Linked DNA regions of Homo sapiens. The protein of the gene in region 1 purifies or fractionates together with the protein of each later gene. This does not show direct contact. Each region holds a gene or a part of one and is shown in the gene's direction. Other genes may lie near its edges.

Region 1 (3,500 bases):
CCCCTGTTTCCCTTTCTGAGGACATGAGACCTTCAGTACTAAAACTGGGGAAGTCTGATGGAAACCATATAGACAAAATGATAATCTCATCCATTGTTGGTAGGATATTTGTGCAACCTTTATCAAAATCTGAGATACAATCACACAATCTACCAGTTTCTTGAATACCCTTCTGGAGATTTAAGTATATATATTTTATTGTTGTTGTCACACAGTCAGCATCATGCCAAGCACATTGTTCTATTTCTTCTTTTCTCATTAAATAATCTTAAATATCCTCCCATGTAAATATCCATTGAATTATATAGCTTGTTTTCCTACTTGGCATCTACCCTACTGTTTTGTTTTGTTTTATGATCATACTAGCAGCACACAAATTCAAAAACAACCCAATACATACACCCATCATTTTTTCCCATTTTTTGTGATAAAATATACATAACATAAAATTTACCATTTCGGCCAGGCGGGGTGGCTCACGCCTGTAATCCCAGCACTTTGGGAGGCCGAGGCGGGCGGATCATGAGGTCAGGAGATTGAGACCATCCTGGCTAACACGGTGAAACCCCGTCTCTACTGAAAATACAAAAAATTAGACGGGCGAGGTGGTGGGCGCCTGTAGTCCCAGCTACTCGGGAGGCTGAGGCGGGGGAATGGCGTGAACCCCGCGGGGCGGAGCCTGCAGTGAGCTGAGATCGCTCCACTGCACTCCAGCCTGGGCGACAGAGAGATTCCGTCTCAAAAAAAAAAAAAAAAAAATTTACCATTTCAACCATTTTTAGATGCCAGTTCAGTGGCATCAAGTATATTCACATGGTTCTGAAACCATCGCGACCATCCATCACCAGAACTTTTTTTTTCTTTTCTTTCTTTCTTTCTTTCTTTTTTCTTTTCTTTTTTTTTTTTTTTGAGACAGAGTCTTGCTGGAGTGCAGTGACACGATCTTGGCTCACTGCAACCTCTGCTTCCTGGGTTCAAGTGATTCTTGTGCCTCAGTCACCCCAGTAGTTGGGATTACAGGCATGTGCCACCACACCCGGCTAATTTTTGTATTTTTAGTAGAGACGGGGTTTCACTATCTCTACTGACCAGTTTGGCCAGGCTGGTCTCAAACTCCTGACCTCAAGTGATCTGCCTGACTCGGCCTCCCAAAGTGCTAGGATTACAGGCATGAGCCACCACGCCTGGCCTATTTCAAGATATCTTTATGAGAAATTCCCAGAAGTGGAATTGCTAGGTAAAATCACTAGGTCAAAGACTGTAGGCATTTCAAATTTTGATAGAAGTTGCACAGATATTACTTCTACCAACTATGCATGAGTTATCTGCTTCTCTATACTTTTCCCATAAGAGACTTTCCCACTTTTAGTAGTCAGGGTTTCATGTCCCCAGAGCTCCTCAGTCCTGGGCAGACAGGGATGGCTGACCACTGTAAATAGTGTGTTATAAATTTTCAAACATGTTTCTGAGTATATAAATCAGGATTGATTTGATTATGCTGTGGTTTAAAAAACAACAACTCAGTGTTCTAAAGAAACAAGTTTATTTCTCATTCAGGCAAAGTCCAGGGGACTCTCCAAGGTGAATGTCCTCCTTCCAGGATACTTTCAATAGTATAGCACTTCTGCGTTGACGCAAACTTTCCTCACTTCCAAAGCAGCCAGGTTGGAACCTTATGCAGAGTCAGTTAAATGCTCCCTCTGGGAAGTGACAGACATCTCTTTTCTTCATTTCTTAGCCAAAGCAAGTTACCCAGCCATGCTTTAATGCATTTCCTATGTGCTCAGAAGTAGAAATCTGAATATTGGTGATCAGTAGTAATCCCTACCATAATGAATATGATAGGTAAAAAATGATATCTCAACAGTTTTAATTAGCATTTTAGTTTTGATTGGCGTGTGATTTTAATATCTATTTTGAGCATATACTGCCCTTTTTTCCTGCAGATAATGAAAAAATAGAAGCTTCACTGAGACGATTAGAAATCAACATGAAAGAAATCAAGGAAACTTTGAGGCAGTGTAAGTTATCATGTGCCCTGCTGTTTCTGATGGCCCCCAAACTAGAAGTCATCAGTTTACTGGGACCCCAGCCTCCCGCTACCCCTGCATTTGTCCATTTTCTGTGCTGGATGGCTGGAAGCAGCCCACAGGTTTGGGGATCCATTCATGGCTAGCCCAGGCTTCTGTCCATGGAATAACATGTGGAGAGAGCTTCTTGACCAGTAAGATACCTTCTAGCAGCTGTCAAAGTACTTAAAAACCTCTATGAATAGAATCAAAGCTTCAGTTCAGTTGCTGAATTTCCAAGAAGAAATTCAAATCAAATTTAAAATGCCCACTCATTCATTCATTCAACAAAACTGTGAGTATCTGGTTTATGCCAGAGGCCATGCAAAGAGGTAACTAAGATGCAGAGAAGGACACTGCCTTCCAGGAGCTCACGGGGTGGAGGAGGAAAGAGGAAAGACAGACAGTGAACACACAACAGCAAGGTTACTGAGCTTGAACTATGTCCCTAACTACTAGATCTGAAATGACTACGCCAGATGCCAGATGCTCAAGTGCCAAGCTCTGGGTAACAGGAATAGACATCCTTCCAGGATGAGAGAGATGAGTCTGGATGAGGGTTAAGGCTGGAGGGACAGGCGGGATTTGAAGAGGAGGGAAAGGAAGTGGATGACACATTCTGTTAACTGTCCAGCTGTGTCTCTACTGGTCACTCAGAGGCACGGGAGCCGCTCCCTTGGGCTGAGTCCATCAGAAGCCCCAGCCACCACCAGCTCTGGTTCATGTAGTAGAGCTTCCCACTCACACATCACAAATATGCCACCTCCCTTAGGACCCCTTCCTCTGCTCATTGACTCTTTTGTCTTCTTTCCTCTCGGGGGTGAGGTCAGATTTACCACCAAAATGCATGCAGGAGATCCCGCAAGAGCAAATCAAGGAGATCAAGAAGGAGCAGCTTTCAGGATCCCCGTGGATTCTGCTAAGGGAAAATGAAGTCAGCACACTTTATAAAGGAGAATACCACAGAGCTCCAGTGGCCATAAAAGTATTCAAAAAACTCCAGGCTGGCAGCATTGCGTAAGTTGTTTTGTGTGGTTCTCTCGTGTGTACCAATACTTACTCTAACTCTCCAAGGAGAGAGGGATATCGTCTCCATTTTTAGATGAGGAAGCCTGGGCCCTAAAGGGTTAAATTATGTGCTCTCCACTGTTAAGGAGCAGAGTCTTGACTTAAATACATCTTTCCACCTCAGTTCTAGGTCTTCTCTCCTTTGTCCACATATATATTTAAAAAAAAAAAACAACTTTCCCTTCCAACCTTGTTTCCCAGTTGCTCATCCCCTCCACAGACAGTAGTTCTAGTGTGTTTTGTTTGTATGTGTTCTTGTAAAATGTATGCATACATTTTTCATGTTCACAACTGGTAGAGTTACGTGTCTGTTGCCTCCTTTCCTCACTTTTTTCACTCAACATCATGAAACGTGTTCCATAT
Region 2 (3,500 bases), on another chromosome or scaffold:
GTTCAGATACTCAATTTTCTGAGTGTGGTGTATCAGGACCTTGGGTACGAAACTTCATTCAGTTTTGGCAACAGATACTTATGGAGTGTTTGCTATGGGACAGGTGCTAAGGATACAGGATTAACCCGTGGAGAGGTTAACAGTGTTAACCTCTCATACTAGGTAAGCGCCGTACAACATGGAAGCCCAGAGCAAGGACACCCCCTAGCTCTCAGCTTTGGGCCAGGCTCAGGGAACACCATCTAGGGGTGGAGGCTGATGCCTTGCCAAGTCCCAAGGCAGAACTTCAAGAGCAGAGAAGAGGGAAAGAGTATTCCAGGAGGAGTAGCAGGATGGTCAGCCAGGAGGTGTGAGCTTACAGAGAAGGACAAGACTGTGATTTAGTGTGACTGTTGTGGGGAACAGGAAGAGATGAGGCCAGCCTATGGAGCATGCAAGGCTACACATGCCCTGCTAAGTTGTGGAGATTTTTATCCTTGGGCAGGGGAGGGTATAGAGGTGAGATCCAGAAAGACACCTGTGGTGGCAGGGTGAGAGAGGGACCTGTTTGGGAGGAGTGTTTGGGGTCAGAGGGATCAAACTCACAATGCAGCTTTTTTTAAAAAAAAAAATTGAGATGGGGTCTCACAACGTTGTCCAGACTGGTCTTGAACTCCTGGGCGCAAGCAATTCTCCCACCTCAGCCTTCCAAAGTGCTGGGATTACAGGCTTGAGCCACTGCACTTGGCCACAGTGCAGCTTTAATTTTTACCAAGAAACATATCTCTAAGTGGACTAGAATCTGGAACTTATTTTCTTTCTGCTGGAAGGTCTTGGCGAATGCAATCAGGTTTGTTTGGTGAATATGGGATACATGCAAAGGGGCTTGTGGAGTTGTTTTGATCATGCTTTTTAAAATTTATTTTTAATTATGCAGGTAATGTTTGAATATATTCTCATTATAAAAAATTCAAATGATACCAGTAAAGTAAAAGTGCCCCTGATAGATCTCACTCTATCCCTCACCCCTCTGCAAAGGTATCAATTGCTCTGTTTGGGGCCCATCCTCCCCCTTCTCCCTTGCCCCACTTGTAATCCCTTAAGAGAGCATCAGCAACGTAGGTTGCCCCAAAAAGCCACCTCCTCTATAGAGACAGACTGCCCCTCCCATGGGGTTTATTGTACCAGTCCCAGATAGTTACCCTTTCTCTTGAGGGCTACTGGAGAAACACGCATTCTTACCATCCATTTCTGTTGCCATATTCCTTATAGGGCACCATTGTTGAGGAAAATAGCCCAGACTACATAGATTCTTGGCTGTCTGTAGGCATGGCCGTCAGCAGCAAGACTGCTCACAGGTGGGGCCTGGCACCATTTCTGGGGACATGCATACATTCTTAGATAAACACACACTTTAGGCCTCGTTTTGCCACGTCACATGAGTTACTGAAATGATGCAGAGAACTGGGCATCTGGATCTGTATCTGAATCAAAGTCTAACTTTTAAAGAAAAGGGAATCAGGTCTGGAATGGACTGGCTAGATCATTTTGTAGTTACCTGAAGAAGGAAAGTATGGAGCTGTTAAAAAGTCTCTTGGCTGGGCACGGTGGTTCACACCTGTAATCCCAGCCCTCTGGGAGGCTGGGGCGGGTCATTTGAGTCCAGGAGTTTGAAAGCAGCCTGGGCAACATGGCGAAACCCTGTCTTTATAAAAAGATTACAAAAAATTAGCCTGTGTGGTGGTGCACGCCTGTAGTCCCAGCTACTTGGGAGGCTGAGGTCGGAGGTTCACCTGAACCAGGAGGTCAAGGCTGTAGTGGGCCGTGATTGTGCCACTGCACTCCATTCTGGGTGACAAAGTGGGACCCTGTCTCAAAAAAAGTCTCTCACTTTCATTTGTTCAGCTAAAAGCACTAGGAAGTAATGTGAAAGTTTACCATTTTCAGTCATTTAAATCTTTGTCCACACTGTGAGGTGTTATTACACACCTATAACACAAGGGTTGCAGTTTCCAAAAATTAGACCTGTGCCTTAAATTACTTTATTGATTGGTGATTTCCTGAGAACTCCCCACTGCTGAACCAAGCTCTTGGCTTTAGGTCTGATCTAGCCTTATCTTACCACTGTCCTCAAAGTCCCAAATTATCCCTGAGGTGTCTTGTTTTGAGACCATTTTCGTGCTGATAAGCTCTCTGATTTTTTTTTTTTTTTTGAGATGGAGTTTCCCTCTTGTTGCCCAGGCTGGAGTGCAATGGCGCGGTCTCGGCTCACTGCAACCTCTGCCTCCTGGGTTCAAGCGATTCTCCTGCCTCAGTCTCCCTAGTAGTTGGGATTACAGGCAGATGCCATGACGCCCAGCTAATTTTTGTATTTTTAGTAGAGATAGGGTTTCACCATGTTGGTCAAGGCTGGTTTTGAACTCCTGACCTCAGGTGATTCGCCCTCCTCGGCCTCCCAAACTGCTGGGATTACAGGCATGAGCCACCGTGCCTGGCCAGCTCTCTGATTTTACACTGGGAGCTCTTGGTATTTCCAGTGCCTGGCCTGGGAAGTACTTATCAAATGTTTGAGGAATCACATTGTGCGTGTGCTGAATACCCAGGCTCAGGATTTCTCACCTTGCTTTTTGGGACCAGGGTTGGATGAGAGAACCTGTAACATTCTTGGGATTCCCTGTACCCCTTAACCATTGGCCTCCGAACTTCAGGTTTGTCACTTGACACAGTCGCAGCTGTACAGTTTTTTGTTCTGTTTTCCCTCCCGAAATAGCATGTTCTGGTTCTCCATTAGCCTGTAGACCCTTTCTGGGGGTGGGAAGTGTGTGGGAATGGCTTCTTTGTGTTAGCTCCAGGCCCTCGCTGCTTAGTGTGGTTGAGGACCAGCAACATGAGCCTCACCTGGGTGCTCATTAGAAAAGCAGGTCCTGCCTCAGACCTATCCAGTCAGGATCTGCATTTTAACAAATCTGGGCAATTTGTACACATAGTGAAGTCTGAAAAGCACTGCATGAAGCTTACCCTGTTCTCATTTGGGGTGCCAAACTGCTCTAATTGGGCCTCCTGGTCCTGGAGGAGTAAGGAGTCTTTCTCTTTTTTTTCCTCCCTCTTTCTGGTTTCTGGCTTGCACTGTCTAGACACCATGACTCCCCAGTGTCTGGGTTAAAGCGCATATAAGCTCCTCTCTGTCCTGAGCCCTCCTGATGCCATTTCCATCTTTGTTGAAGCAAACTCCCTCTCATCCTTTAAGATACACGTGAAATTTCCACCTTATTCTGTGCCTCCACTCCCTAGCAGTTAGGAGTCCTTCTTTTGGGTTTCTTTATAATTTTAAAATTTTGCTTTTATAAATAATACTTTGATAAACATCCTTCTACATTAATCATTGTTTATATCTGTTGTTGTCTTCTTGGATACATTCTGAGAGGTGAAATTGCTGGTCCATGGCTAATTTTTTTTTTTTTTTTTTTTGAGACGAGTTCTTGCTCTGTTGCCCAGTTTGGAGTGCAGTGGCGTGATCTTGG
Region 3 (3,500 bases), on another chromosome or scaffold:
AAATCTCTGACTATGCAAACTAGTCAGTGTGATAAGTTTACTTGGTATTTGAACAGTATAATCAAAAGTTATTTATTTATATATTACTGAAATGTATTAGTGACTAGAAAATGAAAACATATTTACCAGTTAAACACCTAAAATAACACTTAACCAAATAATATAATTTATTAGTTTTTAAATATTACTGTATGTACTTGATAGAAATGCCTCCCTTTCCCAATGTATGTTACATAAAATGTTGATATGATAAAAAGGAGCATACTTCAGATGAGTAATAATTTGGCTACATCTGTGTGACTTTATTTAGATATGTATAAAAGGCAAAGTCCACATATTTAAATACCTGAACATACAAGCTTGTAAGATTGCTCCAGATCTGCCGGATTATGATAGGAGACCGTTGGGTTTTGGCTCCTGGTAAGTATATTCTGTCCCTTTATCTATCATATTTTTTGTACAGAGAATCAAATAAAATGGATACTTAAATTTGCCTGAATGTTTGACTAAAGGGAAATAACCTGTTTTAACACTGTTATTCTCAGAATGCTTGTATTGTAAAGTTGATTACCTAGATCTGGCAAAGTCTAGTTCTAAGGGTTTCTCAACCTTGGCACTGTTGACATTTTAGATCAGATAATTCTTTGTTGTGATGGGCTGTCCTGTACATTGTAAGACATTTACCAGCATCCTTGGTGTCTGCCCATTAGATAGATGCCAGTAGTACCCTCGCAAAGTCTCCAAATGTCACCTTGGGGCCCTCCAGTTGAAAACTACTGGTCTGAGTGACTTGAACGCTAACTTTAGCTCTGCTGCTGAGGTAACTAGCCGAAGGCAAGTCATTCCTACTTTTTGAGTTTCATTTTTTCTACAAGGAGTCAAGAGTTGGATTTGTTGACCATTAACATCACTTCAGGATCTTTTAATCTATGAGTCCCTCAGCTACACAGCCTGTGACTTATAAGGTCATCTGCTTGGCAGTCCCAACCATCTGGAACAATCTCTTTTTTTTGAAACAAGGTCTTACTATGTTGCCCAGCCTGGTCTCAAACTCCTGAGCTCAAGCATTCCTCCCACCTCAGCCTCCTGAGTATGGAGCAGTCTTAAGTAGCAAGAATTAAATTCTTAGGCCTTTAAACAAGCAGGATAGATGTTTCAGTCAAAGTGAAGTAATGTTTATGGACTTTACTCAAAAGAGAACCTCTCAGGCCTTCTCTTGAACCTCTCAAATTTTGCTTAAAAGCACAGTCCTAGTAAACTCGCCTCATTGGACGAACAAGAATTGCAGAGGTGTGATTGTTTTGAAGCTGGATAATAATGAGTACATGAGGTCTCATGCTATTCTGTTTGCTTTGTTTCTATTTGGAATTTTTCATATTAAAAAATTAAAGCCCATTTAGTTCTAATAGTTAAGTGACTGCCACATTTCTTGTTTTTTAGAAAATTGATCTGTTTAATTTCAAATTTTAATTGTTAAAATAACAAACTTTGCAGTAACAGAGTCTCTTTTCGGCAGCCATGAAGAACTGTACTCAAGTCGCCCTTATGGAGCCCTTGATTCAGGCTTCAATAGTGTGGACAGTGGTGATAAGAGATGGTCAGGGAATGAAGTAAGTGTTTTTTATGTTCCGTGTGTTATAACACCTGATTAAGAGAAAACAGAATGATGAAAATGAAAAGCGTCTTAACTGGATTCAGTTTCTCACTACATAAAATACAGAAAAGTCAAGGTGGAGGCAAGATTCCCACCCTCTCCAGCAGAATTGGCATTCTGCGTCCTTACCGGCTTTCTGTCACGTGGATTTCCGCCTGTTTCCTCATTGCCTCATGGAAATAGTTTCATATCATAGAAAGGCAAACAGGAGCTGAGCCAGTTGAAACTGAAGCCTACAATCTGAGGTGGGGGGTAATCTCGAGCAGAGGTGCTAGATGGTGAGAAAACAAGTAGGACTTTCGGCTGATGGGTAGAGACAAGGACCTTAGTAAAGAGTATTCATGTGCTCAAGAGGAATAACTTCCTGGCTAATTCTGTCGTTTTTCTCGTTTTTAAATTATTGATATTATGTTTTCTGCTCTTAAAAATTACTGTGTCCACAGAGGTCTACAGAAGAAAAAAAGTAAAAAAATAAATAAAAATTACTAATGTGTAATATTTTAGCTATGCATTAAGTTATTAAGTAAACTTTTGTTAGCAAGACTGATAACCTACTATTTATAACATTGTTTTACTGTGAATTGAAACCAAATTAATTTTAGACCACATCCCATTTGAAATTTGGAATTACTTGTGTTTGTATGTCTTGGTGGGTGGGTTCATAAATGTGGCTGTATCAATACAGATATATATGTAGATATTTTAAATCTATATATATATAATTTATGGAGTCATGAATCTTTTATATTTTTTGAGACAGAGTCTTGCTCTTTCACCCAGGCTGGAGTGCAGTGGCACGACCATGGCTCAAGCAGTCCTCCCACCTAAACCTCCTGAGTAGCTGGGACTACAGGCTTATGCCACCATGCCTGGCTAATTAAAAAAAATTTTTTTTTAGAGACATGCTCTCCCTATATTGCCCAGGCTAGTCTCAAACTCCTGGGCTTGTCATTCCCATCTTGGTCTCCCAAAGTGTTGGGATTATAGGCATCAGCCACCACTCCAGACCAGATTTTTATTTTTTTGAAATAGGATCTCGCTTTGTCGCACAGGCTGGAGTGCAGTGGTGGAATCCTGTCTCATTGCAGCCTCGAACTCCTGGGCTGAAGCGATCGTCTCGCCTCAACATCCCAAGTATTAGGATTACAGGCATGTGTGAGCACATCTAGCTAATTTACTCCTGGCCTCAAGTGATCCTCCTGCTTTGGTCTCCCAAAGCGCATGGATTACAGGCATGATCTGCCAGGCTCTAAAATGATTGTTTTTAATGTTTCTGCTTCTTTTTTAAGCCTACAGATGAATTTTCAGATCTGCCTCTTCGAGTAGCAGAGATTACTAAAGAACAAAGACTACGAAGAGAAAGCCAGTACCAAGAGAACCGCGGCAGTTTGGTAGTAACAAACGGCGGAGGTAAACATAATTCCGGTGACAGCTAAAGTGTTTGCAACCATTTAACTTTTTAAAGTTGTCTTTTTCATACCCACTCCTTTTGTTGGTGTATCTATAGCTTCTTCACTCTTCTTTTAAAGACTTCTTTTCATATATGATTGAAAAATACTATTTTCCATTGGGATGAAACTATGATTTCTGGTTTCAGTCAGAGTTAAAATACACTATTTCTCCCTTGTTTTTATTTTGGGAGGAAACTTTATTAGAGACAGTACACCTGGAGCAGATCTTTGTTAATCTGGATTTAATCACGACCTTTTGAAGTAACATTCTCCCTTTTTAAGATTCTTGCTGTGGTCATTATTTGATCTCTTTTAGGAATTTAGTCCTTTTTTTTTTTTTTTTCAGTGTTTACCTTTTCTTCACCTGGAATTGTCAGATGCTCTTCAAAGTCATC
Region 4 (3,500 bases), on another chromosome or scaffold:
GTTGGCCAGGCTGGTCTTGAACTCCTGACCTCATGATCCACCCACCTTAGCCTCCCAAAGTGCTGGGATTAGGTGTGAGCCACCGCACCTGGCCGATATTTTCTTTAATGAAATTTATAAATATGCTTCTTGAATAATACACATTTTGGGAAAGGGAAAAATGTCTGTTCAAAAAGTAAAAGTCTCTTTTATAGCTTTTCCAAACTTAATTGCTAAATTTTTCTTTGAGGTTCTCCTGAATTATGTCTTACAAACTAAAAGCAAAAATTTTTAGCAGAAATTTTGGAATACATTCTATCTAGCACAATTTGAATTTTTAATTATCAAGATTTTTGTTAAAGTTTCTCTCCTTTAAAAATTTTAGTACATTTGTAAATAGTCCATGGTTCTCAGTGTTTTATTTTGATTAAGTGACTACCCAACTTTTGGTGATATGCAGTGAAAGAATCCCAATTTTCTATGTTACATTTAATCAAATACTGACATAATGAATTTATCTTTCCTGACACATTTTCATTCATTGGCTTTTTAATTTCTTATTTTATTAACAAAATATATCAGATATATTACCAAAACACATGGAGTTCCATACATAATATGGAATTTGATGTCTTTTCAAGTTGCACAAAGAATTTGAGCATATATAATTTTACCAAAGCATAATGGACCTTAGATTATAGAATACAGCATTGTTAGGTCTGCAGTGGGCAGTTTCTTTTTGTTTTGCTTTGTCAAAAATGGGAAATTGTTAACTGTGATGAAATGTGAGAATTACATAGATTATGTTATTTTTTAGTTGTTTTCCAAATGCAGAGTTTAAGGACTTTCTAACATGGCTAGTATTACTTCCAAAAAGTATAACAAGCAGCAGTCACACATGACCTAGGAGGGTTTTTTATTGTTTTATTTTATTATGCATTCCATAACAGTTTTAAAATGGGATTTTGAGAATGGACTTAACTTTCCTGGAATCCAATGCTCCTGGAGATTTATGACTTTCCCAGCCATCAGCCAGCTATCTAGAGAAGATTTTTGTTTTTCTTTTGCAACAGTTTCTTCAGTCAACTCATTCACTTTCAAATAGGAGCAGCACTTTGAAATCCTTTTTCTTCACTGTGGATTAAAAACATCCAAGAAGCCATCTCTGTCAAGCAGAATTGTCATCTGTGGTAATAAGTGACCATGTCCTAAATACCTTTTTCTTAGTGAGGAGTTGGTCATTGTCTTTGGCATCTGCAACCCCTGTTCAGGCATGTGACCTGCTAAAGAAATACAGCCTACACTACCTTGACTACTGGGGAAAATGATACTTCGTAAAATGTAATAAGGCAACCTGTTCCTTGGCCTTTATCTTATGTTTTCCAACTATTACTGTATCTGTTATTGGTCTACTATTACAGGATGATTCTTCTTCCTCCATTGATCTCAACTAAATATGAATTAGGGTCATGCATGAAATCTGAACTGCCGTGTCCTGAGTTATGGTTAAGAGGTATGTGCTGCCACCCCATGCATGTCTTCCCCATCCCCATAGGATTTTAAAGTGTTCAGGTACCAAACACAGTTCTGTGTGAGGTTTTATGCCTACTTCCTCAACACCAATTCAGAGGCAACACCTGTGCATCTGTCCCACCAAAGGTGCTTTAATACCTACCTTCACTATTTGAGAAAGGACACTCACAGTTGCCTGTGGGTTATGAAAGAATTGGCCCTACGTCCTGCATGTAAGATGTTACAGGGGACATTGGGCCAGGCATTATTATATAGAGAAGTCTTATTTGCCAAGCTCTGACTAACTTCTGGATATGAAAATAAGGAACTTGCCCAGCATAGGCCTATAGGCAGCAGCCTTACTAGTAAATCTTGCCACAGAATCACTTGAAGCTAGACAGAGAAAGAAGTTCAATTTAAATATTTGTCCCATTGTTTGTGATTAGGATGTAAGCTTTGTGGAATGTAATTAACCCTGCTTTACGAAGTCACCATATTATAATAGGAAAAACACTGCCTAGGAGGCAAGAGATCTGAATTCCAGTTCTGATGCTGCCACTGTGTAAGGAAGTAGTTTTATAACCCATGGGCAAATCATCTGAGCTTTCTCATCTGTAAAGTTAGGGAGAGGAATTAATTAGTTGATCTGTAAAATAATCAGCTTCAAAACGTTATGGCTAAATCTGTAGAATGTATGCCCAATTGCTAAACGGATGTTGTGCCCAGAATTTTATCTAGTGACTACCTCAACATACAGGCCAAGCGTTACCTACACCAACACCCAAGCCATTAATTTGAGGTGCCATGAGAATAGGTGAACCACAGCCTAACACCATTTAGGTTTTTGTGTTTTTTTCAGGCTTGCCTCTACTTAAATATATTTAGATGAGAGAGTTCTCTTAGACTTCTTTCTTTGTAAGGAAGGGTTATTTGGGGAAGTGTTGGAAAAAAGATTAGGGCAGGGTACCCTTAGTTTATATAGGGTACAAAAGAATGGGAAACATCTTCCCTTTCTTCTTTAATCTCTGAAGTCATGTTTGGAATTACATATAATGTAGCAGGTACTGGAGAGGACCTGAATTTCAAGCTTCTGATTTAGCTGTTTGTAAACTTCCAAGTTTTGCTTGACTAAAGAATGCTGATCTTTTTTGGGAGTCTGATCTCCTTCTAATATCAGAAAGTGCTTTTTATATTCCAGATTGCTTGAATTAAACTGTTTGGATTAAAGAACATATATGGAGTTTCCTCTCTGGTTTTAAATAATCTTTCTTTATTCAGTAGCTATTAATAATTTATCTCATATTCAGCGAATATTTATTGAGAATATTGTTGAGAATCTCTTACATGCCAGGCACTATACTAAGTTAATATGCATTCAGTATACCAGTTGGTGTGACCCAGACCAAAGGTAACACAAAGATGAATGAGAATTCCTTCAAGGCGCCGATAATCCTAGTAGGAGAGCTAAGACACAAAACTGTTGCATGTTTTTAATCATCAAATTAAACTTCTTTCCACGTCCTTATCTTCTTTGGCATCCTTTTGCAAGATTTTTTTTAACTACCAGGCTTAAAATAATGAGGTCCCAGAGCACTTACTGGCTTCGAGTACACTTTATTTAAGCAGTTACTAGTTTAAAAGCACCTGTAATAACACTGAGATCATCATCATCAAATTGCCACCCAACAAGCCTAGCTTCTTGCAGAAAAGTTAACTTGGATAACACTTGGCTAAGTTTTCTGACTAATGCTGGATCAGGTAGAAATTCTTTAGTACTAAAGTCAAAAAACACTAATTGCTTAAGATTCTCAAATACACCCATGAAGGCAAGCCATCCATCACTGCTCACACGATTTCCCGCCAAATTCAACTGCTGGAAGTTTTTCAGAGGGTTCTTTCCAAAAAATGCACCTGGGTAAAGAAATAAGTATATTAGTTGGAAGAAAAATTTTTTTTAAAAAAAAAGAGAAATAGGTTCTACATTTATTTTACATACTTTTTTTTCACTC

Evidence for each region.
Region 2: the proteins of MLKL (region 1) and PARP16 purify together in Homo sapiens (affinity purification with mass spectrometry; one large-scale study listed by BioGRID and IntAct). This does not show direct contact.
Region 3: the proteins of MLKL (region 1) and LRCH3 purify together in Homo sapiens (affinity purification with mass spectrometry; one large-scale study listed by BioGRID and IntAct). This does not show direct contact.
Region 4: the proteins of MLKL (region 1) and SLC30A6 purify together in Homo sapiens (affinity purification with mass spectrometry, with the first as the bait; one large-scale study listed by BioGRID). This does not show direct contact.

Annotation. Positions count from the first base shown.
Region 1 is NC_000016.10:74,690,863-74,694,362, reverse strand, and holds part of MLKL (mixed lineage kinase domain-like protein), read left to right. Parts: intron 1-1,946; coding exon 1,947-2,021; intron 2,022-2,899; coding exon 2,900-3,086; intron 3,087-3,500. UniProt on the Homo sapiens protein: Pseudokinase that plays a key role in TNF-induced necroptosis, a programmed cell death process. Does not have protein kinase activity.
Region 2 is NC_000015.10:65,280,384-65,283,883, reverse strand, and holds part of PARP16 (protein mono-ADP-ribosyltransferase PARP16), read left to right. Parts: intron 1-3,500. UniProt on the Homo sapiens protein: Intracellular mono-ADP-ribosyltransferase that plays a role in different processes, such as protein translation and unfolded protein response (UPR), through the mono-ADP-ribosylation of proteins involved in those processes.
Region 3 is NC_000003.12:197,829,254-197,832,753, forward strand, and holds part of LRCH3 (DISP complex protein LRCH3), read left to right. Parts: intron 1-310; coding exon 311-420; intron 421-1,511; exon of another isoform or gene 1,512-1,516; coding exon 1,517-1,610; exon of another isoform or gene 1,611-1,644; intron 1,645-1,783; exon of another isoform or gene 1,784-1,970; intron 1,971-2,021; exon of another isoform or gene 2,022-2,101; intron 2,102-2,943; coding exon 2,944-3,064; intron 3,065-3,500. UniProt on the Homo sapiens protein: As part of the DISP complex, may regulate the association of septins with actin and thereby regulate the actin cytoskeleton.
Region 4 is NC_000002.12:32,221,364-32,224,863, forward strand, and holds the end of SLC30A6 (zinc transporter 6), read left to right. Parts: 3' UTR 1-3,016; downstream 3,017-3,500. Other genes in the region: NLRC4 (NLR family CARD domain-containing protein 4), read right to left, coding at 3,110-3,402. UniProt on the Homo sapiens protein: Has probably no intrinsic transporter activity but together with SLC30A5 forms a functional zinc ion:proton antiporter heterodimer, mediating zinc entry into the lumen of organelles along the secretory pathway.